Regions from separate parts of the Homo sapiens genome. Here region 2 is linked to region 1. Evidence: fine-mapped expression QTL. A gene starts in region 1. The other region holds a variant in brackets. All regions are shown on one strand. Distances are from middle to middle.

Region 1 (10,125 bases):
CTGTTAATAGGTTTCAGATTAGGCCTGAGCTTCTTTGAGCTTCTTGCAAGCTCTAACGTTCTAGGTTTCTGGGTGATGTGTGTGTTTGATGCTGTTCCACTTTCAGATCTCCGAGTCTCTGTTTCTAGAATAAGTAGTGAGAAAGAAGTTGCAAGAATGTATTTCACAATACATGTTTAAATAACTACCGGTGAAAGAGCTGTTAAGAGTGTGCTTACTCTGTGCTGGATGCCTTTCTGAATAATTTACCTATGAGATAGACACTATTATGTCTCCCATTTTCCACATGAGGAAACTGAGGCCACAGAAAGGTGAAGTCACTCACTCAACAGCATCCACCAAGCATCAGCAGCACAATGGCCCAGAGTCCATGCTCTCGAATCCTGTAACAGCTATCACTTAACCAGCCACCCCATGTTCCAGGCACCAGGGTTATGTGTTTTTCTCATGTATGATCTCACAGTATCCTCACAATGGCCCCATGAGGCGGGTATCGTGATAACCCCATTTCAAAGGATGAGAAAACTGAGGCTTGGAGATGTGAAGTCCATTGCCCAAAGTCACCCATCCAGGAAGTCGTGGAGCATGTCTCAGGCAGCCTAAAGGCAGAGCCTGTGTTCTTAAGCACTCTGTTCTTGTCTACAGCTCCCCAACCAAGGGTCTCAAACTCACACACCTACTGGGACCAGGCAGGCAAAACAAGCAAAAGACAGTGCTAGGGATGAGGCAGCAGAGAGTGGCAGGGTTTGGGGCAAACCTGGGCAGCAAAGCCCCATCCAAGAGGGGTGGCCGTCTGCCAATGGAAACATGGGCTCACCTCTTCCGGTGTTCCAGTGGAAGCTGGAAACCTAACTGTGTGGGGAACAACCCCTGTTTAAAACTGGGGTCAGACCAGGCACCGTGGCTCACACCTGTAATCCCAGCACTTTGGGAGGCCAAGGCAGGCAGATCACCTGAGGTCGGGAGTTCAAGACCAGCCTGGCCAACATGGTGAAACCCTAAAAATACAAAAATTAGCTGGGCATGGTGGCGCATGCCTGTAATCCCAGCTACTGGGGAGGCTAAGGCAGGAGAATTGCTTGAGCCCAGGAGGCTGAGGTTGCAGTGAGTGGAGATTGTGCCACTGCACTCCAGTGTGGATGGCAGAGCAAGACTCCGTCTCAAATAAAATAAAATAAAATAAAGTAAAATAAAATTGGGGTCAATTTGGCTGGGTGTGGTGGCTCATGCCTGTAATCCCAGCATTCTGGGAGGCCGAGGTGGGCAGATCACCTCAGCCTCCTTGAGGTCAGGAGTTCGAGACCAGCCTGGCCAACATGGTGACACCCCATCTCTACTACAAATACAAAAATTAGGTGGGCATAGTGGCACACACCTGTAGTCCCAGCTACTTGGGAGGCTGAGGTGGGGGAATCTCTTGAACCCAGGAGTTGGAGGTTGCAGGGAGCCAAGATCGCACTACTGCTCTCCAGCCTGGGCAACAGAGTAAGACCCTGTCTCAAAAAAATAAAGACTAAATAAAATACAATTGGGGTCCATTAAAATACCCCTGGCCACCTGGGTGTGATTCTGGCTCTCCTGGATTTCTCACCTGCCCCTCTTTGCACAGTTGTAGGGAACTACCTGTGAGCTTGTTCTTTTAACGTCAATCTTTCTGTCCAGTCAGAAAGTACCAGAAGGGCAGGGATTTTTGTCTCTTGCCCAACTCCATCGCTCCAACTAGAATATCCCCAGCCCACAGCATGGGACCTGGCCCCTTATTCACTGAATAGATGGATCCTTTTCTTTATCCTGCGGCTTCTCTGCAGTTCAGTCTCCCAGTCTCTGTCTCCCAGTCTTTGTCACGTGTACAAAACCTGGCTCTTCTGTTTCCCTGGCTGTCTCTGGTGTCTCTGCCTCCATGTCTCCATGTTTCTGGAATTTTCCGTGACTATTTTCTCCTCTTGGGGTGTGTGTGTTTTACGCTCTGCCTCTCGAAGTCTCTATTACATTCTGTAAGTCAGGCCGGGCACAGTGGCTCGCGGCTGTAATCCCAGCACTTTGGGAGGCAAGACGGGCAGATCACCTGAGGTCATGAGTTTGAGACCAGCCTGGCCAACATGGTGAAACCCCATCTCTACAAAAATCCAAAAATTGGCCAGGCGTGGTGGCGCGTGCCTGTAATCCCAGCTACTCAGGAGGTTGAGGCAGGAGAAACAACGCTTGAACTCGGGAGGTGGAGGTTGCAGTGAGCCGAGATTGTGCCATTGCACTCCAGCCTGAGTGACAGAGCAAGACTCTGTCTCAAAAAAACAACACAAAGCAAAACAAAACAAAAACAAAAACAAAAAACCACACAAAAATTAGCCGGGCATGATGGCAGGTGCCTGTAGTCCTAGCTACTCGGGAGGCTGAGGCGGGAGAATCACTTGAACCTAGGAGGTGGAGGCTGCAGATGGCACCACTGCACTCAAGCCTGGGCGACAGAGCGAGACTCCATCTCGAAAAAAAAAAAAAAGTCTGTAAGTCGGGCCCACACCATCTCTTGCTCCGTGAGTATCTTTGTCTCTCTAGCTCCTCTTCTTCTCTCAGTACATGTCCCTCCTTGACTCCCGCCTCTCTGCAAGGTGTATTTGGCTGCCTCAGTTGGCCTCTCCCCCTCTGCATCTCTGGGTGGGGTGTTCTCTGCCCGTCTCCCACCCACACCCACCCCCGGTGCTCCCCTTCCCCCCAGCAGGACAGCGGCTCAGGTTCACGCACCCCACGGCGGGCCGGCTGGGCGCACGCACGTCCTTGCACACAAGCCGCACGTAGCTGTACTTGAGCACGTCGATGAGCGTGTAGAGCGGGGGCGCACTGGCCCAGCGGCAGCGCGCCAGGTGCATGGAGCTCTTGACGAAGAAGAGCGCCAGCCGCTGCTGGCACCACGCGTCGAAGAAGCGGCTGAACTCGGCCCACGAGAAGAAGGCCCGCTCCCGCAGCTCCTGCTCCTCCTGCCCCGCAGCCGTGCCGGGTGGGGGCTCCGGCCGCTCCATCCTGGGGGCCTGCGTGGAGGAGGGGAGAACAGGTGGATATCAGACCCATTCCCACCCGGGGTATCTCATCTACTCCATTCTTGGCCTGCCCCGTCGGTTGCTGGTGCCTCTATCGAGGTGGGTAGCCCGGGGTCGGACGTGCCTGTTTTTCTCCAAATATATAAATATCAACCTCCATCCTATCTTTGGCCTCCTCCCACCGCCTTATCCCTGGTTCACTTGGAGCCTGTCATCTTGATTCCTAATTCCAACTCGTCTCCTCCTCCGCAGATGTGACCCTTAGGTACAGTTGGAATCTCTCCTCCCAAAATACGACCCTTAAGCTCAGATGTCCCTTAAGGACATCTCCTCAAATGTGTTCTCAAATTCCAGCTAAAACCTCCTCCCCTTCCAGCTGTGTCTCTCACCCAAGAGTAACTTCTAACTCTCGTATTCATCTGGAACTCCTCCTTCCATGTGCCAACAGTTGGCTGTAACCCCTCCAAAGACGCTCCATCTCCAGATGTGCTCCCACATCCAGGCCACGGACCCCTCACCCGGTCACATGCTTCATGCACCTGTGGCTCCGCACTCCCCAGATGTGCCTCTGGCGTGCAGCTGTTGCCCCTTCCCCCGATTATGACCCTATGGCTCGCCACATGCAGCTGTAGCTGGGGCTTCCCTGAGACACTCTCATCTCCAGATGTACTCCCCACATGCAGTTATCCACGCTTCGCCTACAGGTGTGTGCCCCACTTGTGGCTAGTTCTCCTCGGAAGTGTCACCAGTATTCACCTGTGGTCCCCTCCTCCTCAGATGCGGCCCCCAGTCCAGCTGTGGGCCCCTCCTCCCAGTTACATCCACCATCCCCCGCAATATGCATCTTCGTTCTAGACATGGCCCCTCGTCCTCGGATGGGCTCCTTCACCCCAGATGCTCCCCCCACGTCCAGCTGCGCGTCTCCCCTCGAGCAGCCCCATCCAGCCCGCTCCCGACCCTCCTACTCCCCCCCTCCCCGCCCGCTGCGGCACCTTCCAGCCCCGCCGTCCCACCTAGCTGTGCCTCTCCCCTCCCCAAGATGTGCACCCTTCCCGCCCCTCCCCACTCACCTACCCGCCCCGGAGCGGCGTCCACCTCCCACAATGCCCCGCGCCCAGGCCTGGCCCGGCCCTTGCTCCCGGGATGCCCCGCGCGGTCTCCCGCCTCTCTTCCCGCCGTGCCTCGCGGGGGCGCTTCCACCGATTCCTCCTCTTTCCCTGCCAGTCACTCCTCAGACCCTCAGCCACACCCGCTCATCCAGGGCGAGGGAAAGCGCGGGCATTTTCCCAGTGTGCTCTGCGGGAGGGCTCGCCCCACTTCACCCCTTTTCCCGCCCTCCTCCCATTCGGGAGACTACGACTCCCAGTGTCCTCCGCGCGACGGCGGCGGTGCGGACGGTGCCCAGGTCCCGCCCCTAGGCTCTGCCCCGCCCCCGCCCGCAGACGTCTGCGCGCGAATGCCGTGGCGCGAACTTGGGACTGCAGAGGCGCGCCTGGCGGATCTGAGTGTGTTGCCCGGGCAGCGGCGCGCGGGACCAACGCAAGGCAAGTGGGGCCGTCCGCAAGCAGATGGGAGGCGGAGGGCGGCGGGTGCGCCGAATGCTTGGGGCCTATGCTTCGCCATGTCGGGGTGTCTGCAGAGGAGTGGGCGTGGGGACGCTGAGGCTGCCGAGAGCGCGGTGGAGACGGAAGAGCGCGGGCTGCGGGCCGCCGGAGAGTGCAGAGAGGTGTCTCCCAGAGGGAGGGGGGCCAGGTAGAGGGTAGACGAGAGACAGAGACAGTTGGACAGGTCCTCTGAGAAGAGGCCTTGAGGTGCGAGTTCACCTGGAAAGGGGAGAGGCCAAATGGAACTGAGGGGCGGGGCCGGGGGGGGGAAAACTGTGTGGGCGGGGCCAGCTGGAAATCGGAAGGCCCCCCGAGGGGGCGGGGCTATCTGGGAGGGGGAGGGGCTGAAGGGAGCTAAGGGGCGGGGCCGGGGAAAAGATTGCGTGTGGGCGGGGCCACCTGGAAGGGGGAGGTGCCAAGGGTGGGGCTGGCTGGGAACCGGAAGTGCTGAGGGGGCGGGGGCCACCTGGAAGTGCTGAGGGGGCGGGGCTAGAAGAAGGTAAATCGCGGGCAGCAGCATCACCTGGAAGGAGTGGGCCCTACTGGAGGGAGATGGGTGGTGTCAGGGAGAGGTCAGTGGTAAGGTCCAGGTCTAGGTAAAGGGCTCGTAAAAGATGGAGAATCATCTGAATGGGGAGACGTCTGGCCTAATGTATGCTTGATAAAGGGATGGAGCTTACCTCTTGTTTTTACTTTTTATTTTGAAATAATTATAGATTCAAGGAAGTTGTGAAAAGAGTATATCCATCTTCCCCTAATGGTGACATCTTATGTAGTCCCAATATCGAAACCAGGAAATTGACATCAATACAGTTCTGTTAACTAGATTACAGACCTTGTTCAGTTTTCACCAGTTTGTGTGGTGTGAGTGTGATTGTGCATCTGTGTGCCCGTGCAGCTTGATTCCTTGTATAGATTTGTGTAACCCCCATCGTAATTGTGATATAGAACAGTTCCCTCTCCACATAAGAACTCCTCCCCAGGCCCCTGGCAACCGCTAATGTGTTCACCATCTCTAGTTTTGTCATTCGGAGATTGTTATGTAAATGGAATCATATATTATTAGGATGTTACCTTTTTTCTACTCTGCACAATGCCCTGGAGGTCCACCCAAGTTGTTGCTTGTATCAGTGCTTCGTTTCTTTTTATTACTGAGTACTGTTTCATCCTTACTTGATATTTTTCCTGTCATTATCTCTTCATTTTGGTAACCGCTTTATTGAGATATAATTCACAATTATACAGTTTGCCCATTTAAAGTGTACAATTTTGCCCATTTAAAATGTACAAGTCAGCGGTTTTCAGTGTATTTAAAGTGTATTTCAGTGTATTTAAAGTGCCCATTTAAAGTGTACAAGTCAGTGGTTTTCAGTGTATGCGCTGAGTTGTGCAGTTATTACCATAATCGATTTTAGGATATTTTTATCATCCCCCCAAAAAACTCCTATACCTTTTATCCATCATTCATTTAATTTTAACCCTGAACAATATTCTACCATATGGTATTCCAGTAATGAGGGAACCAGTTCCCTAAGGGTAGACATTCCACCAGTTTCCAGTCTTCTCTCATTACAGTTAGTGCTGCAGCAGGTAACTTTGTGCCTCACTTGGTCCACCTGTGAGGGTCTCTGTGGGCCAAATACACAGAAGTGGGGTTGCCGTTCCGATAGAGACGCCAGGTGGTCCTCCAGAGGCATCAACCAGTTTGTTCCCCCCAACTCAGCAGTACACAGAGTTGAGAAGCCAGCCTTGAGTACCGTGGTAAGGAGAAAGGAACGTGGGCTTTGGAGCCAGCCACACCGGGTTTTGAAGCCTTGCCTGAACCCCAGCTATGTTCCTCTGTCCTCATTACCTTCATCTATAAAGTGGGGATGATCTCACCTGTCTTGGAGGGCTGACTTGAGGATTGAGGGTATTTGAGAATGTGATCAGCCTGTCAGGCATAGAGTAGGCTTCCCAGTAAACGCTTATGTATTTCTCCTTCCCTTGCAACTCAGTCTGGTGGTTAAGAGGTGAGCTGTGGAGCAGGCCGACCTGGGGTGGAACGTACTATAGATGCAGGTTAAGTTCCTTTGAAAACCCCTCTGTGCCTTAGTTTCTGTAACAGAGTTGTTGTGGAGAGTCAGTATAATTGAGAATGTCAAGTACCTAGGCAGTTGAGCACTCAGGAGGGATCGTAATAGTTTTCTCCTTTGCCCTCAGGATTTTGGTGGCTAAGTCCCTAACCTGCTTTCTGTGTGAACTGTTTGGTTGAAGCATTGCTTACTTCCTGCTCCCCAACTGGCCCTGAGAAACTCTGTTTGGAAATTGCTGAGTTTCTTTTTTGTTTGTTTTTTTTTTTTTTTTTTTTTTTTTAAGACGGGGTCTCGCTCTGTCGCCCAGGCTGGAGTCCAGTGGTGCAGTCTCAGCTCACTGCAACCTCTGCCTCCTGGGATCAAGTGATTCTCCTGCCTCAGCCTCCTGAGTAGTTGGGATTACAGGCTGGCACCACCATGCCTGGCTAATTTTTTGCATTTTTAGTAGAGATGGGGTTTCACCATGCGGGCCAGGCTGGTCTTGAACTCCTGACCTCGTGATCCGCCTGTCTCAGCCTTCCAAAGTGCTGGGAGTACAGGCGTGAGCCACAGTGCCGGCCTACTGAGTTTTTTGATTCCAAAATTGAGTTTGAGTTGTGGTGCCAACATGTGGCGGCCAAGGCTGTAGAGAGTAGTGGAGACTTAGAGGCGTGTGGTGCGGGACAGAGAGTACTGATTCCAGAAAACGAAAGGGGACCCCATGGGTTGAAGAAGATTTCTGTGCAAAGGAAGGGAAAGTCAAAGAAAACCATTTCTGTTGCCCAGGCTGGTCTGAGCTGGTCTCAACTCAAGCAATCCACGCAGAGGTCCTGCTAGTCCTTTTTTAAAAAATATATTCATAGTGGAAGGAAATATAATGTAAATAATTATAATTACATAATTATAATGTGTAATTTATTTTCTTCCATTATAAATATTAAAGATATAGAAAATTTATAATTTTTTATATCTTTAATATTTATAATGGAAGGAAAGGCTCAGTTCCAATTAGAAGTTTACAAGAATAAAGTCGTAATTTCTTTCCTGTCAAATTTCATAGACCACTTGAGTTCTGCTCTTGGACTCCTGGGTTTTGTGGACCCCAGATTAAGAACCCTTTCTTTTCTTTTTCTTTTTCTTTCTTTTTCTTTCTTTTTTTTTTTTTTTGAGACAGAGTGTTACTCTGTTGCCCAGGCTAGAGTGCATGATCTCACTGCAACCTCCACTTCCTGGGTTCAAGTGATTCTCCTGCCTCAGCCTCCCCACTAGCTGGGATTACAGGTGTGCACCACCATACCTGGCTAATTTTTGTATTTTTAGTAGAGATGAGGTTTCACCATGCTGGCCAGGCTGGTCTCGAACTCCTGACCTCAGGCGATCCACCCGCTTCGGCCTCCCAAAATGCTGGGATTATGGGCAGCAGCCACCACGCCCGGCCTAGGAACCCTTTCATTAGAGTTACTCTAAACTGTGGAAGCCCCAGTGACTGTTATTGATTTCATTAAATAACAGACTTTTTAAAAAAGTATTTAATTTTTAAAAATATATTGTGAAGGGGTAACGTATTCCAATTGTTCTGCCTGCAAAAGCATGCATATTAAAAAATCTCCCTCCAGCGTCTGTCCCTCCTGAGGCGACAGCATTACCAGTTTTTTGTCTTCCAACTGAGATGTTCTGTACATATACAAGATATGTGGATACATTTATAGTCTTTCTTTTGTTTTTGTTTTTTGAGATGGAGTTTCACTCTTGTCCAGGCTGGAGTGCAGTAGCACAATCTCGGGTCACTGCAGCCTCTACCTCCCGGGTTCAAGCGATTCTCCTGCCTCAGCCTCCAGAGTAGCTGGGAATACAGGCGCGTGCCACCGCACCTGGCTAATTTTTGTATTTTTAGTAGAGACAGGGTTTTGCCATGTTAGCCAGGCTGGTCTTGAACTCCTGACCTCAAGTGATCCACCCACCTCGGCCTCCCAAAGTGCTGGGATGACAGGCGTGAGCTACTGTGCCTGACCTATAGCCTTTCTCTTTTACACAGTTCAGTAGCACACACTCTGTGATATTCTGCCCTTTGTTTGAAATAACAGCATACCTTAGAAACTGCCCAAGAGCTAATTTATGTAGACCAGCGGGTACAATTTTATAAGCTTCCACAGTTGTTTCACGGAATTATGTCATCACCTTAAAACAATTTTTCACTAACCTTTAAACTTAACTCCAAAAAAACCCATTTCAGGTCCTCAGTCTATTCCTCATATTAGATGAAAAACAGTCTTCTTATGGTAAAGGAGGCCTCTTATCTTTTTCTCTGATTTGGAGCTTTTATTCTGCACCAGTAAATCTCACCAGCAAATTATTTTGGTTCATAAAAACAGGAGTTTCTTTTTGAAGGGGAAATTCATGTTTCTGTTTTTTTTTTTCTTTCTTTCTTAAAGAAAGGGTTTTATGTGTGTTTAGATCTCTGCACAACCAATCACCTCAACAAGTGTTTGGATTTCTGTTCCAGGAGCAGCTGACAGACGAAGAAAAGTGCTGGACAGGAAGGGAGAATTCTGACGCCAACATGCAGCGAAGTATCATGTGAGCACCCTCCCTTGCCCCTGAGTCTTTCCTTCTCCAAGTCCTCTGTTTCTTTCTCTAAATCTGTACTTAAAAAAACAAACAAACAAACAAAAACTCTTACGTTAGATTTTGAGTTGGAATTTCCAGGAGTCAAGTAGTATGGAAAATGAGCCGTGGGATATGGAAGACAGTGTATTGAACAACAGTTTTTAGTTGCAAGGAGCAGAAACCCTAACGCAGTGGTTCTCAGTCAGCAGCAATTTTGCTCCCCAGGGAACATCTGGCAGCGTCTGGAGATTTTTTTTTTTTGAGTTGGAGTCTTGCTCTGTCACCCAGGCTGGAGTACAGTGGCGCAATCTCGGCTCACTGCAACCTCCGCCTCATGAGTTCAAGTGATTCTCCTGCCTCAGCCTCCTGAGTAGCTGGGATTATAGGCACGTGCCACCACGCCTGGCTAATTTTTGTATTTTTAGTAGAGACGGGGTTTCACCACGTTGGTCAGGCTGGTCTCAAACTCCTGACCTCGTGATCCGCCCACCTCGGCCTCCCAGAGTGCTGGGATTTCAGGCGTGAGCCACGGCGCCCGGCCAGTGTCTGGAGATATTTTTGGTTGTTACAACCTAGGGACAGAGGGTTTGCCATTGGCATCTAGTGGCTAAAAGCCAGGCATGCTGCTAAACATCCTTCAATTCATAGGACAGCCCCCCCAACAACACAGAACCATCAGGCCCAACATGTCAATAGTGTCTAGGTTGAGAAACCTCGTGTTAATGCAGTCCGGCTTCAGGAAGACAAGAAAGGGCATGACTTGACTTATATCATTGAAACCTGCTGGAGTAAACAGCCTCAGGCTTGGTTCGATCCAGTTGCCAAAAC
Region 2 (14,017 bases), 21 kb before region 1:
ATGGAGATGAATTCATTGTGGCTCCTCTATCCATCTGGCCCCAGGAGGCCTTGTCGGTAGAAAGAATGAAGGAACGCTGGACCATCTCAACTGTTCCCTGGATCTGGGACTCCCAACCAACCCCAGAAGCCAAGAACTCATCACGGAAACCAAAATAAGATTGTTTTATTCCAATCCTGAAGAACAATAGTCCAAACAATTCCCCTCCCCTGCTGGAGACTCTCCTGACCCCCAGTGCCCGCCCTCCCTCTCTCTTCAGAAGGCGATGGGGGTCGATGTCTCCAGGTCTTGGAGAAAAACCAAAACCACGCCCCTTGCATTTCGTCTCTACCCGTCTCCCACACATTTCTTTTGTCTCATCTCCGATTTTTCTTCCCCCTCCTACATCCCGTCCCTTCCTCTCCTGCTTCCCCCAGCTTTTCCTCATGTCTTCATTTCTGTCTCTTTGCTTGTCCTCTCTCCTCCATTTCCGGCTCCCCTTTCCATTTTTTCTCGCTTACCTCCTCTCCTTCATCTGTCTTCTGTACTTTCTCCCTTTCCCCTCTCCCCGCTGCACTCCCTAGACTGGCCAGTCTACTCTTGCCAGACACTCCCCATATGATCGCTTCCTCCCCCTCCCCCCAGCTCTGCCCCTTTCCTTCCTTCTGTCCCAGCCTGACCCTGTCTACACCTCTCATCACATGCTTCCTCTCCAGAGGGAAGCCCTCAGAATCCACCCTGCCCATCAACACCTTCCCAAGCTGTGGCTCCAGGACCTCAGAGACCACTTACAGCTTGCCCTTGGACCCAGAGAGGCAAACTGCCATGAGGAGGTCCCTGGATGACCCAGAAGGTGGCCAGGGGGACTGCAACGGTCTCCTTGGCCTCAGCCCTATTATCTTTGGGATCGAAGAATGCCCTCCGACCCTCCTGGTGGAGGGTGGTGGGCAGAGGCATGAAGGGTCAGGGCTCTGGGGCTCTCCCCCAGCAATCCCTGAGCAGGTCCATGTGGAATAAGGCAGCCCCAGTGAGGAGGCGCGCTGCAAAGAGGTGTCTGCAGGGCAGACGGCGGGCGGCGTGAATTGAGCAGCTGCAGCGTGTCAGGGCCCCATCCAGGAAGAAGTCCGAGGTGCCGTCCTTAAGGGCAAAGCCAGCTCCGGTCCAGTGGAAACCCCGGGTCCCATGCTGCCTAGCAAAGGCCAACTCCTCAGCCACCAGGTCTGCCAGCTCTGGCCCGCAGGCTGCTCGGAATTTGGCCAGGGGTTCCCAGTCCACCTCCTCCTCTCCCGGGGGTCGGCAAAGCCTCTTTGGTTCCCTGGGGCCATCTTCGCCTCCTTCCTGCAGGCCGTCACCTGCAGCCAGGTGTTCACTCCTCGCCGCTGCCCATTCTGGGCTGCCTTCCAATACAGTCCCCACCGGGGTGCCAGACACGACTCCATTCCCCAGCCCTAGACACCGCCCTCCTGCGTCTCCCCACTCCATCCCTCGTCCGGCTCGGCTCTTGGGGCCCACGGACCGGGCTCCCCCTCCATCTCCATTCTCCATGCCTGTGACCCTCGTGTCTCCCAGCTGGACCAGAACTATATCCTCCAGGCCCCTTCTTCTTTTGACCCCCACCCTCGCTCCCCTCTCCTCTGCAATCTCTGGCCCTCTCCTCCTCTCATCTTCCCACTGGGGTCCCCTTTGGTCTCCGTTCTCAGGGGCCAACTCCAGGGACTTCTCCAAGGGGATCCCCCTCAAGTTTCTGACCTCCAGCCCCCTCCCCTTCTCTACTTCTGACTGTGGCCCCTTCCATTCTGCAGTTCTCAGTCCCCCTGCCCTTTCATCGTGCAGCTGCGCCCCCCTCCAGGGGCTTCCTTCAAGACTCCTGACCCTCTCATAGTCAAACTGGGTCCCCCTCAGGTCGGTGGTACTCCTGCGATCTTCCAGCTGGGCCACCCTCCAGGTATACCCTTCCAATCCTCTTAGCGCCTGGTCCTCCAACTGGGACCCCCTCCAGACATAACCTTCCAGTCCCCAATCTTTCTCACCCTCCAACTGGGGCCCCCTCCAGTCTCTAATCTCTGGCCCTCTCAGGTGCCCTTTCTCTAACTTCGACCCTCTCAAGACACCCCCTTCCAGTCCCCTCGGCTTCTGATTCTCCAACCGACCCCCTCTCCAATCTCTGATCTGCAGTGCCCTCCCCTTCTCACCTTCGAACTGAGCCCCGCCCCAGTCTCTGGTTTCCAGTGCCCTTGCCCACTCCTTCTCCATCTGGGCTCCCCTCCAAATACTTCCTTCTTTCGGAGCCCCTCCCCAGTCGCCTGTCTCCAGGCCCCTCACCCTCTCGTTCTCCCCCTGGGCTCCCCTCCCTGGCTCATCCTCCAGCCAAGGCCCCCCGCCATCGGGCCCCTCGGGCACCGCCTCCCCGGCCGCGTCGGCCCACTGCATGGCCACCAGGTCGCGAAGGCACTGCGCCACGCCACGCGAGGGGCTGAGACGACGCAGCAGTCGCCGGCGGTGGCCTCGCACCAGGGCACACGCGTCCAGGTCTCTGGCCGCCTCGAAGGCGCGGAAGCGGACCCACATGTCGCGGCGGGGCTCCCAGTTGCGCTCGAAGTAGTCCACGAAGGCGGCTGGGCCGTGGGCGTGGAGCTCGGCCAGCGCCTCGTCGTAGGCTGCGGGCGACGACGCGCCAGCCAGGCGGCACAGGCGCGACCACAGGCCCGGGTCCTCGCGGCCGGCGCCGCCCAGCTCCTGCGCCTTGCTGAAGAGCGTCTCCAGGCCCTGCGCGCGGCAGATCTGCACGCGCGCGCAGGGCAGCAGCTGGCGCACTGCAGGCAACTGCGCCGCCACCTCGGGCCCGGCGGTGAGGCAGCGCACGCGGCCCTTGACGTCTGGCGCGCTCTGCAGCAGCGACGCGAGCGCGAAGCGCAGCAGGCTCGGTGTGCCCGGGCGCGCCACGCAGCAGGCAGCCTGGCGCGCACGGCCCGAGCCGTCCACGCACAGCACGGCCAGCAGATCCAGCGCGCCCTGCAGCCCCGGCAGCCGGTCCACCAGCAGCATGCGAGGGAAGCGCCGCAGCAGCGCCCTGGTGCGCGACGTCAGGAAGAACACCGTCTCCACCACAGCCTGGTCCTCCACGAACACCAGCTTCACCTGCGGGCGGGGGCAGGGAGGCAAGGAAAGAGGTCAGAGGATGCTGGGGTCTCCCCGCCCAGCTCCCCGACCTCGGTTTCCCCTTCTACGGAAATGGGACCACCCATTCATTCTTGCCTGCATATGCATTTATTCTTTTGACCGGCAGGAGGCAGTGCAGGGAAATGGTTAAAAACACTCTGGAGCCGGATTGCCTGGGTTTGAGATCCAGGTACCACAGTCTAACGGCTATGTGATTTTTTCCACATGACACTTTTAGCTTCTCTGAGCCTCAGTTTCCTCCGCCGGAAGCTGGCTATTCATTCCTCCGTGTGCTGAGAGGCAGTCTAGGGCAGTGGGTCTCAAAATGTGGGCCCTGGACCAGCAGCATCACCATCGGTTCTTGGGACCTGGACAGAAATGCACCTTCTCGGGGCCACCTC[A/G]GACCCACTGAGTCTGAAACTCTGGGGGCGGGCCCCAGCAATCTAGTTTGACAAGCCCTCCAGGGGACTCCTATGCATGCTTAAGGATGACTGGTCTGGTGGTAATGAGCTTAGATTGTGGAGGCAGATCATTTAGCTTTGAGTCCCACCCCCAACACTTCTGAACCCTGCGATTTAACCTCTCTGTGCCTCAGTTGCCTCCTTAACCTCCATATTCCCTGATTATCCCTTCTAGGCACTGAACATTCATTTCTCCATGCACTGAGAGGCAGGACAGTGGTGAAAAGCATAGCCTCTGAGGCCAAGATCCCTGGGCTGAGATCCTGGAGCCCCTGCTTCCTGGCTGTGTGCCTTCTGCCAACTTCCCTAACCTCCCTTTCATTTGTAAAGTGATGATAATAAGAGCATCTCTGTGATTGGAAAGATGAGATGCATTCAAGCATTTAGAACATTGCCTGGTACATATATTACTGTTATTACTTATCCAACAAATAGTAAGTGTTCTGAAAGTGGCCATTATAATTATCGTCTCTGTTCAAACATCACGTCCCGCTCTTCTGTGACTTCCCAACTAAGCAGACACCCCATCTCTCTCTGCCTCCTTTTGGCCATGGCACTTACCACCCTTTGGCAAGTCATATCTTCGTTTCCTGATCTGCCCATTGCCTGCTTGCCCTCCTTAAGATGGAAGCCCCACAAGCACAGGGATGTTCCCCTTCGGGATGGTCTCTCCTGGCCTCTGCCCTATGTGGCTCTTCCCTTTGCTGATTTTATTCCGTGTCCTTCTGCTGTAATAAACTGTAGCCTTGGCTATAACAGCACCCCTGATGCTTTGAATGCTACCTGCCCTGGAACAATGGCTCAATACATCCTGAGTGAGTGAACTCACGCGAGGGTGTGCAGCCATGTCCAAGGCCACATCTGTAAGGGTGGAGGTTTAAGGATCAGACTCCTGGATTTGCCTATTAGCCGTGGGACTTCAGGCAAGTGACCTCTCCTCAATGAGCCTTGGTTCCTTGTCTGGAAAAATGGAGATGTCTATTTAACAGGGTCATGGATGGGCTAAAATGAGATCACTCCTGGCCAACGCATGGAAGGACACCTGGCGTGCATCAGCTCTCAGCCGTTCTTACCGTCTGTCTCGATCTCTCAGCAGTATTCAGCACAAGTCTACATGGCTGACCCCAATAACAACCCTGGACACCAAGGCCCAAGTAAGTGTCCCTGGCTAGCAATACATCATTGTTGTCACATGTCATTGCTGGGAGAACTGAGCACTGTCCATGGGACTTCACTGAGAGACGACATCTGGCAGCTCATGCTGGTCTCTCTTGGCCTCTGCCCTATGTGCTGCTGTTAGATAATTAAGGAATCAGAGAGACTGATGGGGTCGCCTTGTGTGGCTCTTGCCTTTGCTGATTTTACTCTGTATCCTTTTGCTGTAATAAACTGTAGCCTTGACTATAACAATTTTTCTCAGTTCTGTGATTCCTTCTAGTGAATCATGGAAACTGAGGGTGGTCTTAGGGACCCCCATCTGCACCAGAGGAGTGACTTGCCCAAGGCCACTGCGCTAACAAGCAGTGATGCTGGGATCCAATAGATCCGGGCCATTAGGAATGATTGGAAACAAAAGCAGTAGGTGGGAGAACATGCATGGGCGGCATTTTAAGGGGCAGGGTGACATTTGATGAAGGCGGGGCTATGTAAATGTGTGTGTGTGTGTGTGTGTATATATATATATATATATTTTTTTTTTTTTTTTTTTTTTTTTTTTTTTTGAGACAGAGTCTCACTCTGTCGCCCTGGCTGGAGTGCAGTGGCGTGATCTTGGCTCACTGCAACCTCTGCCTCCCGGGTTCAAGCGATTCTTCCTCCTCAGCCTCCCAAGTAGTTGGGATTACAGGTGCCCGCCACCACGCCTGGCTAATTTTTGTATTATTAGTAGAGATGGGGTTTCACCATGTTGGCCAGGCTGATGAATACATTTTTCTGCCAGATATTTACTGAGAAAATATGATGTGCCATGTGCTGGCTCAGGCACAGAGGAGAACAAATGAGACACACCACTGAGTGAGAGGAGACAGCCCCCAGGCCAAGGATAAATAAATATAAAAAAGAAGGTTTCGGGTGTGCAAAGCACACATGAAGTAGTTTCTCTGCACCAGGCACAGTTCCAACAGCTAATCTTTCATCCTTACAATATCCCTGTAAGATAGATACTATGATTCTCATTCCCCTTTTTCAGATGAGGACACCGAGGCACACACGGCTTCAGTTGCTTGCCTGGAGTCACCCATGCGATTTGCAATACCAGGTGAGCTGGGATTTGAACCCTGACAGCTTGGGTCCAGGGCTTCTTGTTCCTGACCACTCTACCCTACAGCCTTCAAAAAATTGACCAAACAGGGCTGGCTTAGGCACACAGTGGACAGCAGTGCATTTTGCAGAGATGGAGAAACCCACGGAGGAACAGATTTTGAGGATGCAGATGAATGTACGGGTGTCCTTTCAGACACACAAATTGGTAGCACGGGGAAGCATCTGCCATAGACGACAGATTCCACAAACATGAACATCAGAAACCATGCCTTTACTACTTTCCATTCACACCTCTTCCGACACGTGAGTAAACCTTCCCTTTTCCATGTGATCAGAATGTTCACATGAAACTGTTCTCCAGACTGCCCCAAAGAAAAAATTGAAGGAATAAAAATAATAGCTAAGGCTGGGCACAGTGGCTTACGCCTGTAATCCCAGCACTTTGGGAAGCCGAGGCAGGTGGATCACCTGAGGTCAGGAGTTCAAGACCAGCCTGACCAACATGGTGAAACCCCACCTCTATTAAAAATACAAAAATTAGCTGGGCGTGGTGGTGCGCGCCTGTAATCTCAGCTACTTGGGAGGCTGAGACAGGAGAATTGCTTGAACCCGGGAGGCGGAGGCTGCAGTGAGCCGAGATTGTGCCACTGTACTCCAGCCTGGGCGACAGAGAGAGACTCCATCTCAAAAAAACAAACAAACAAACAACAACAACAAAATAATAGCTAAATATTGAACATATGCAGGGCTTCCTACTTCTGGGCACGGTTCTACCCATTCTGCACACACACACACACACACACACACACACACACATACACATACACACTGCACTTTCTCACACAACAACCCCAACAGCCCTATAAGATAGTATTATCCCCATTTTACAGATAAATGAACTAAGGGTTGGAGAAGGTAAATAGGTTGTTCATAACTTGTTCCATGTCCCACAGCTAGTAACTGGCACAGCCAGAACATTCATAAAGCTTTCAGCACATAGCAACATAAATAAAATCAAGTCACCAGCTGTTACTATAACACCCCAAAATGGCTTCATGTGAAAACAGGCTATACGGCATAGAAAATATTCCCTCTGGGAGCCATGAAAAACTAGAAAAGCTGAAACTAAGCTGCAGGAGGCCTGTGTAACTACATAGCAGGGGAAACACGAGCCCCATATTCAGACAGGGCTTTGGGCGGCCCTTGATGAAACAGTACCCTGTGGTTATCTTTTGCCGCTTGCCAAGAAATTGCAGTTCTCCCTCTCCCGGGCACTTAGTAGCGTTGCACCTCCCTGCCCCCTTGCAGGTAAGCAGTGTCATGTGACTTGCTTTGGCCAATCAAGTGTGAGTGGGAGGGAGCTGCGGCATCGCATCCAAGGAGAAGCCTTCGCAGCCACCGCTGCCAGATATGGTAATTACGTTGGGCTGAATGCCCATCCTCCTGGGTCCCAGAATGACTCAGATAAACAGTACTCCCCCAACATCCCGTGGTGGCTGTGTAAGTGAGCAAGAAATAAAATTCAATGAGTTCAGCCACTGAGATTTGAGGGCTGTTCATTATTACAGCAAAACCTAGGCCATCCTGACTCACACAACCTCAAGACCCTCTATAACTCGCCCTCTAATTTTTCCTTTGAGGAGAGAAACAAATGCGTTTAGTATGTTGGGACTATTGCTTAATTTTCTTTCTTTTTTTTTTTTTTGAGATGGAGTCTCAATCTGTCACCCAGGCTGGAGTACAGTGGCATGATCTCGGCTCACTGCGACCTCCGCCACCCCAGGTTTAAGTGATTCTTCTGCCTCAGTCTCCCGAGTAGCTGGGACTACAGGCACCCACGAGCATGCCTGGCTAATTTATGTATTTTTAGTAGAGACGGGGTTTCACCATGTTGGCCAAGCTGGTCTCAAACTCTTGACCTCAAGTGATCCACCCACCTCAGCCTCTCGAAGTGCTGGGATTACAGGTGTGAGCCACTGCGCCCACCTTCTATTTTCATCTTCTTTTTAAGAATTAATTATTTGAATATGCAAACATCCACATGGTCCTAAAGTCAAATAATGTAAAGCGATACATAAAAGGTCTTACTCCCACCTCTTTAGTCTAATCAGTCAGTTTCCATTCACTATTCTACCCTCATCCACAGTTCTTGGTATTCTTCTAGAGTTTCTTTATATGAGTACAAGTAAGCATACCTATAATTCTTATTTGCTCTATTTTATAGATAATACAGCATATTATGTACAGTTTTGCATTTTGCTTTTTTAACTTAAAAATGTGTTTGAGAGATCTTTCAAAATAGTTCCTAGACTTGTTCTTATTCTTTTTTTTTTGTTTGTTTAGGATGGAGTCTCACTCTGTCGCCCAGGCTGGAGTGCAGTAGCACGATCTTGGCTCGCTGCAAGCTACGCCTCCTGAGTTCACACCATTCTCCTGCCTCAGCCTCCCGAGTAGCTGGGACTACAGGTGCCTGCCACCATGCCTGGCTAATTTTTTGTATTTTTAGTAGTGACAGGGTTTCACCATGTGAGCCAGGATGGTCTTGATCTCCTGACCTTGTGATCTGCCCGCCTCGGCTTCCCAAAGTTCTCATTCTTTTTTAGTGCTGTGTAGTAATCCATGGATGGATATACCACAAGTTATGTAACCATTACCCGTTGGTGGAGTCTGGGTTGTTTCTAATCTGCTGCTTTCACAAACAACAATGATTAACCTTGTAAGTAAGTCCTTCCACAGCTGTGCAACTACATCTGCAGGATAAATCACCAGTAGTGGGATTGTGAGCCTAAGGGTGAGTGTTCTTGTCATTTTGATAGATATTGCTAAATTGCCCTCCACTGAGATCATACCAGCTTCCCATGGAGTATTCTTTTTTTTTGAGATGGAGTCTCGCTCTGTCACCCAGGCTGGAGTACAGTGGTGTGAGCTCAGCTCACTGCAAGCTCCGCCTTCCGGGTTCACGCCATTCTCCTGCCTCAGCCTCCCAAGTAGCTGGGACTACAGGCGCCTGCCACCACACCTGGCTAATTTTTTGTATTTTTAGTAGAGACGGGGTTTCACCATGTTAGCCAGGCTGGTCTCGATCTCCTGACCTCGTGATCCACCCGCCTCAGCCTCCCAAAGTGCTGGGCTTACAGGTGTGAGCCATCACGCCTGGCCCCATTGAGTATTCTTAAAAGGGATACACTTGCATCAATGCTCGCCATTCTCAGAAGGCAAAGCATACACGTAAGAGAACGCTGCAACGTTTCCGGGCAAGGTCTCTCTTTTCAGGGCTTGCTTGCTGGTTACCCTGGTGCCTGCCACAAGTGAGGGAATGGAGATGTGACTGGACCCCAAAGCCCATCATCATCAGGCAGGGCAGGTGATAAAAGGTGTTAAAGGTTGGGTGCGGTGGCTCACGCCTGTAATCCCAGCACTTTGGGAGGCCGAGGCAGGCAGATCACCAGGCCAGGAGATCGAGACCATTCTGGCCAACATGATGAAACCCCATCTCTACTAAAACACACACACACAAAATTAGCCAGGCCTGGTGGCGCACGCCTGTAGTCCCAGCTACTCAAGAGGCTGAGGCACAAGAATCACCTGAACCTGGGAGATGGAGGTCGTGCTGAGCCAAGATTGCGCCACTGCACTCCAGCCTGGGAGACAGAGCGAGACTCCATCTCAAAAAAAAAAAAAGGTATTAACACCTCCCTGGGTGAAGTCGCCCCCCAGTCTTGCCCTTAAATCATGCCTTGTGGCTTTGGGCGCATCCTTCTTGTCTGATCCCCTCCAAAGATCAAGAGAGCAACCCAACTCAGGAAGTGCAGGCACTTTTTACAAATAATCCTTCCTTTGGAAGACTGCTGGGAAGTGGAAAGACTGATTGTTGCTTGACCTAGGCTTGGGATGAAAATTTAAAGCTTGCTGTCTGTCTGTCTATCTATCTATCTATCTATCTATCTATCTATCTATCTATCTATCTATTTAAAGGGTCTCACTCTGTTGTCAAGGCTGGAGTACAGTGGTGTGATCATAGCTTACTGCAGCCTGAAGCTCCTGGGCTCAAGCAACCCTCGTGCCTCAGCCTCTTGAGTAGCTGGGACTACAGATGCATGCCACCATGCCTAATTTTTTTTTTTTTAATTTTTTGTAGAGACAGGTGCTCGTTATGTTGGCCAGGCTGGTCTTGAACTCCTGGGCTCAAGTGATCCTCTCGCTTCGGCCTCCCAAAGTGCTGAGATTACAGGTGTGAGCCATCGCACCTATTATATTATCAATATTACATGTTATGCGTTACATATTATAATATTAATATAATATATAATATTATATTATATAATATATAATATATATAATATTATATATAATATATATAATATAATATAATAATAATATAATATATAATATATATAATATAATATAATATATTATAATATAATATATAATATATATAATATATATAATTAATATATAATATATAATATATATAATATAATATAATATATAATTATAATATATAATTAATATAATATATTAATTATTACATTATACTGTTATATTACTACTGTATTATTAACATAATAATATAGAACTCTTTCATTAGATTTTATAAGTGAAAAAAAGGTGAAATTTCTGTGTAAAAGTGATGGATTGAACACCTCTCTAGTTTCACTCTCTCTTGAACCTCAATTACATCTTTTTTTTAAAATGGCTTTTTTTTTTTTTTAAATCAGAGGCAATATGATAGGGACAGAACTTTGGAAACTGGAAAGCAGCTGGACATGCTAATCCCACCCCACCCCTAAAAACCCATGAATCCTAAGCCAGCAATTGAGGGATGCTGAGAACCGGTAGCAAAGTCCTCAAAAGGAGCTGGCAACACCAGGCCAGTTTTGCAGAAGGCAAAATAAAGACGAACTGAGGGCTGTTTCAGCAGCAGCTAGACCTCCAAATCTCGTTTCCCCTCTCCCCTTACTCTTCCCCCACCCCCAGTGACTGGGGGTTTATTCTGTAGACAGGGTGAAACAGAAAGGGGCCGCTGGCTTTGGGGACATCTGGCCCATCTGAAGATGAGGGAGGGGGATTCTGAACCCCAAGTGGGTACTGAGTGCGTCTTGCTGGCTGAATGCCTGACAGCTCCCTGCCTCTGCCCCTGCAGCTCCCAGAAGCTGGCAGCCTGGCCCTGGCAGCCTGGCCTTCACCCCCCGCCAGGAGGCCAGAGGAGTTTTCTCAGGGGGATTTGACCAGCCCCAGAGGAAGAACGAAAGATGGTGACATCTGGCACTCCCCAACGTATAAAGCAAGATGCAAAACAGCATGTACAGGCCGGGTGTGGTGGCCCCGACCTGTAATCCCAGCACTTCAGGAGGCCAAGGTGAGTGGATCACTTGAGGTCAGGAGTTTGAGACCAGCTTGGCCAACATGGTGAAACCTCGTCTCTACTAAAAATACAAAAATTAGCCAGGCATGGTGGTGCATGCCTATAGTCCCAGTTACTCAGGAGGCTGAGGCAGGAGAATCACTTGAGCCCAGGAGGTGGAGGTTATAGTGAGCCAACAGCGTGCCACTGCACTCCAGCCTGGGTGACAGGAGTGAAACCCTGTCTCAAAGAACAAACAAACAAACAAACAAAAACAGCGTGTACACTAGGCTGCCCTGCTTGCTGGGGGTGGGGGGTGGCGGGGCAGAAAGAGGAAATAAAGTTAAAAATTAAAGTTAAACATACAGACATGCAAATTGACCTGTATATGTGCAGAGCTGCGCTGTCCAATCCAGAAGCCACTAGCTACATTAGGTTGTTTACATTTCGATAAATTAAATGACAAATTCAGTTCCTCAGTCATACTGGCCTCATTAAGCATTCTGTAGCCATGTGTGGCCAGTGGCCTCTGGATTGGACAGTACAGATAAGAACCATTTTCTTTCTTTTTATTTTTTTAGACAAGAGTGTCACTCTGTTACCTAGGCCAGAGTACAGTGGCATAATCTCAGCTCACTGCAACCTCTGCCTCCTGGGTTCAAGCGATTCTTGTGCCTCAGCCTCCCGAGTAGCTGAGATTACAGGCACCTGCCACCATGCCTGGCTAATTTTGAATTTTTAGTAGAGATCAGGTTTTGCCATGTTGGCCATGCTGGTCTCGAACTCCTGCCATCAGGTGATCCATCTGCCTCAGAGTCCCAAAGTGCTGGGATTACAGGTGTGAGTAACCATGCCTAGCCTGGATAAGGAACATTTCTATCATTGTAGAAAGTTCCACCGGGCAGTGCTGGTCCATAGGATAGAAAGCGAGATATGATTTATAAGCTGCTAATAACTCTGCAGGGGAGGGGACCTGGGGGACAGGATGTGATAAGACTTTTCACCACATACCTTTTTTAGAACCATGTGAATGTATGACATATTCAAAAAGTAAATATTTAAATGTTGCTTCACTAATCTGTCTCTCCTGTCCTAGAACTTCTTCCTCCTTTCTTTCAAGAGCATTAAGGGGCTGGGCACGGTGGCTCATGCCTGTAATCCCAGCACTTTGGGAGGCCAAGGCGGGGGGATCACCTGAGGTCAGGAGTTCAAGACCAGCCTGACCAACATGGAGAAACCCCGTCTCTTCTAAAAACACAAAAATTAGCATGGTGGCGCATGCCTGTAATCCCAGCTACTCAGGAGGCTGAGGCAGGAGAATCGTTTGAACCCGGGAGGCGGAGGTTGCGGTGAGCCAAGATTCCGCCATTGCACTCCAGCCTGGGTGACAAGAGCGAAACTCCGTCTCAAAAAAAAAAAAAAAAAAAGTATGAAAGCAGGTCAAAACACAGACGCAGGAGCCAACCGTGGTTTAGCCGAGATTCCAAGACAGCCTTCAAAATGAAAAGACAACTCCCCTTCCAGGGAAGGCTCTGATCTATGAATGAGCTGTTCTGCACAGGGACAATCCTGCAGAGGGTGGGTTCAGGGAAGAACAGCTGAGGCTTATTTATGTCATGGTGGGTAGTGGAGGAGAGTTACTAGATCAGCAAAGACCAGTGGAGTAGGAAGTGCATGTGTGTTTGTCCCCATGGTGAAGGTCATGGGTCTGGATCCAGGCTGTGTGGGTCCGAAGCCCAGCTCTGTCACTAAATAGCTGTGTGACTTTGAGCCAGTTACTTGACTTCTCTGTGCTTCAGTTTCCTTGTCTGTAAAATGGGGATGAGAATGGTGGACTATTTCCTCATAGGGCTCAGGTGAGATGAAAATGAGTTATAGTATGTAAAGCACTTAGGGTAGTGCCTGGCATATAGTAAGTGCTTGATAAACATTAGCTAAAATTATTATTATGTCGGGACAGAGGCCTGGGCTTGGGCTGGTGGCTTGAATCAGGGCTTCTTACTGGGCATGAGATGAAGACAGGAAGAGTGTGCCAGAGCTGAATCTCGACTTTACCCTGCCTTGGGACCTCTTCCACACACAAGGGAGACAAAGGCACAGCCAGGAGGAGAAACCAGTTCTTCCCCTACTTTCTCATCTTTCTTTCCTCTTTAAACTTCAAGTTCACCCCAAACTTGAAGTTGGATTAAAGCCGCAGAGATTCCTTATGGAGCAGCAGCCATCCTCACTGTTCCTCCAACACAAGCTTGCTCGTGCCTCTGGGCCTTTGCACTGGCTGTTCCTTCTGCCTAGAATTCTCTTCCCTCTGATGACAGAATGAGGGTCCCTTGCCTCTGTTCCATCTCCTCTGCTTCACCATCATTTGCTAAAGAGACCTTCCCTGACCAATTCAAACAGCACCCTTAGAACTGTCCCGCTCCAGGCCCCGGCCTTTTTCTCCTTGATGATAACTTATCGCTCCATCACATTACAGGACATAGCACTCTTCCTTCTCCTAATTCTCCATCTGCATGGTGGGTTCAGGTGTGTTCTCCCCTTGAGAACATTCATCAAACTAAGTATTTATCATTTGTGCATTTTCTGTTTGTGCAGTTCAATTAAAAAAAAAAAAATTTAAGTAGGCCTGGCGTGGTGGCTCATGCCTGTAATCCCAGCACTTTGGGAGGCCGAAGCAGGACTGCTTCAGTCTGGGAGTTCAAGACTAGCCTGGGCAACATAGGGAGACCCCCCCCCGCCAAACATCTCTACAAAAACTAAAAAATTAGCTGGGTGTGGTGGTGCACGCCTGTTGTCCCAGCTGCTCGGGAGAATG

Evidence for each region. PIP is the estimated chance that this variant, and not a neighbour inherited with it, causes the effect.
Region 2: its variant is the best candidate, but not a certain one, in a credible set for the expression of LIG1 in whole blood (INTERVAL, PIP 0.86).

What each region holds. Positions count from the first base shown.
Region 1 is chr19:48,164,692-48,174,816 of GRCh38, reverse strand. LIG1 (DNA ligase 1) reads left to right here and starts at 4,473. Exons shown (of 28, transcript NM_000234.3): 1 at 4,473-4,576; 2 at 9,194-9,267. The coding sequence starts at 9,251. ZSWIM9 (zinc finger SWIM-type containing 9) reads right to left here and starts at 4,137. Exons shown (of 4, transcript NM_199341.4): 1 at 4,103-4,137; 2 at 2,740-3,023. The coding sequence starts at 3,014. RefSeq lists silencers at 3,945-4,084, 4,885-4,934, 4,965-5,034 and an enhancer at 4,332-4,991.
Region 2 is chr19:48,183,753-48,197,769 of GRCh38, reverse strand. It overlaps ZSWIM9 (zinc finger SWIM-type containing 9), which reads right to left. Exons shown (of 4, transcript NM_199341.4): 4 at 150-3,117. The coding sequence ends at 943. Among named protein-coding and RNA genes, the nearest start is that of ZSWIM9, 20 kb to the right of the region's middle. RefSeq lists enhancers at 744-1,256, 10,968-11,027 and a silencer at 9,142-9,374. The variant A/G (reference allele first, on the strand shown) is at 3,540.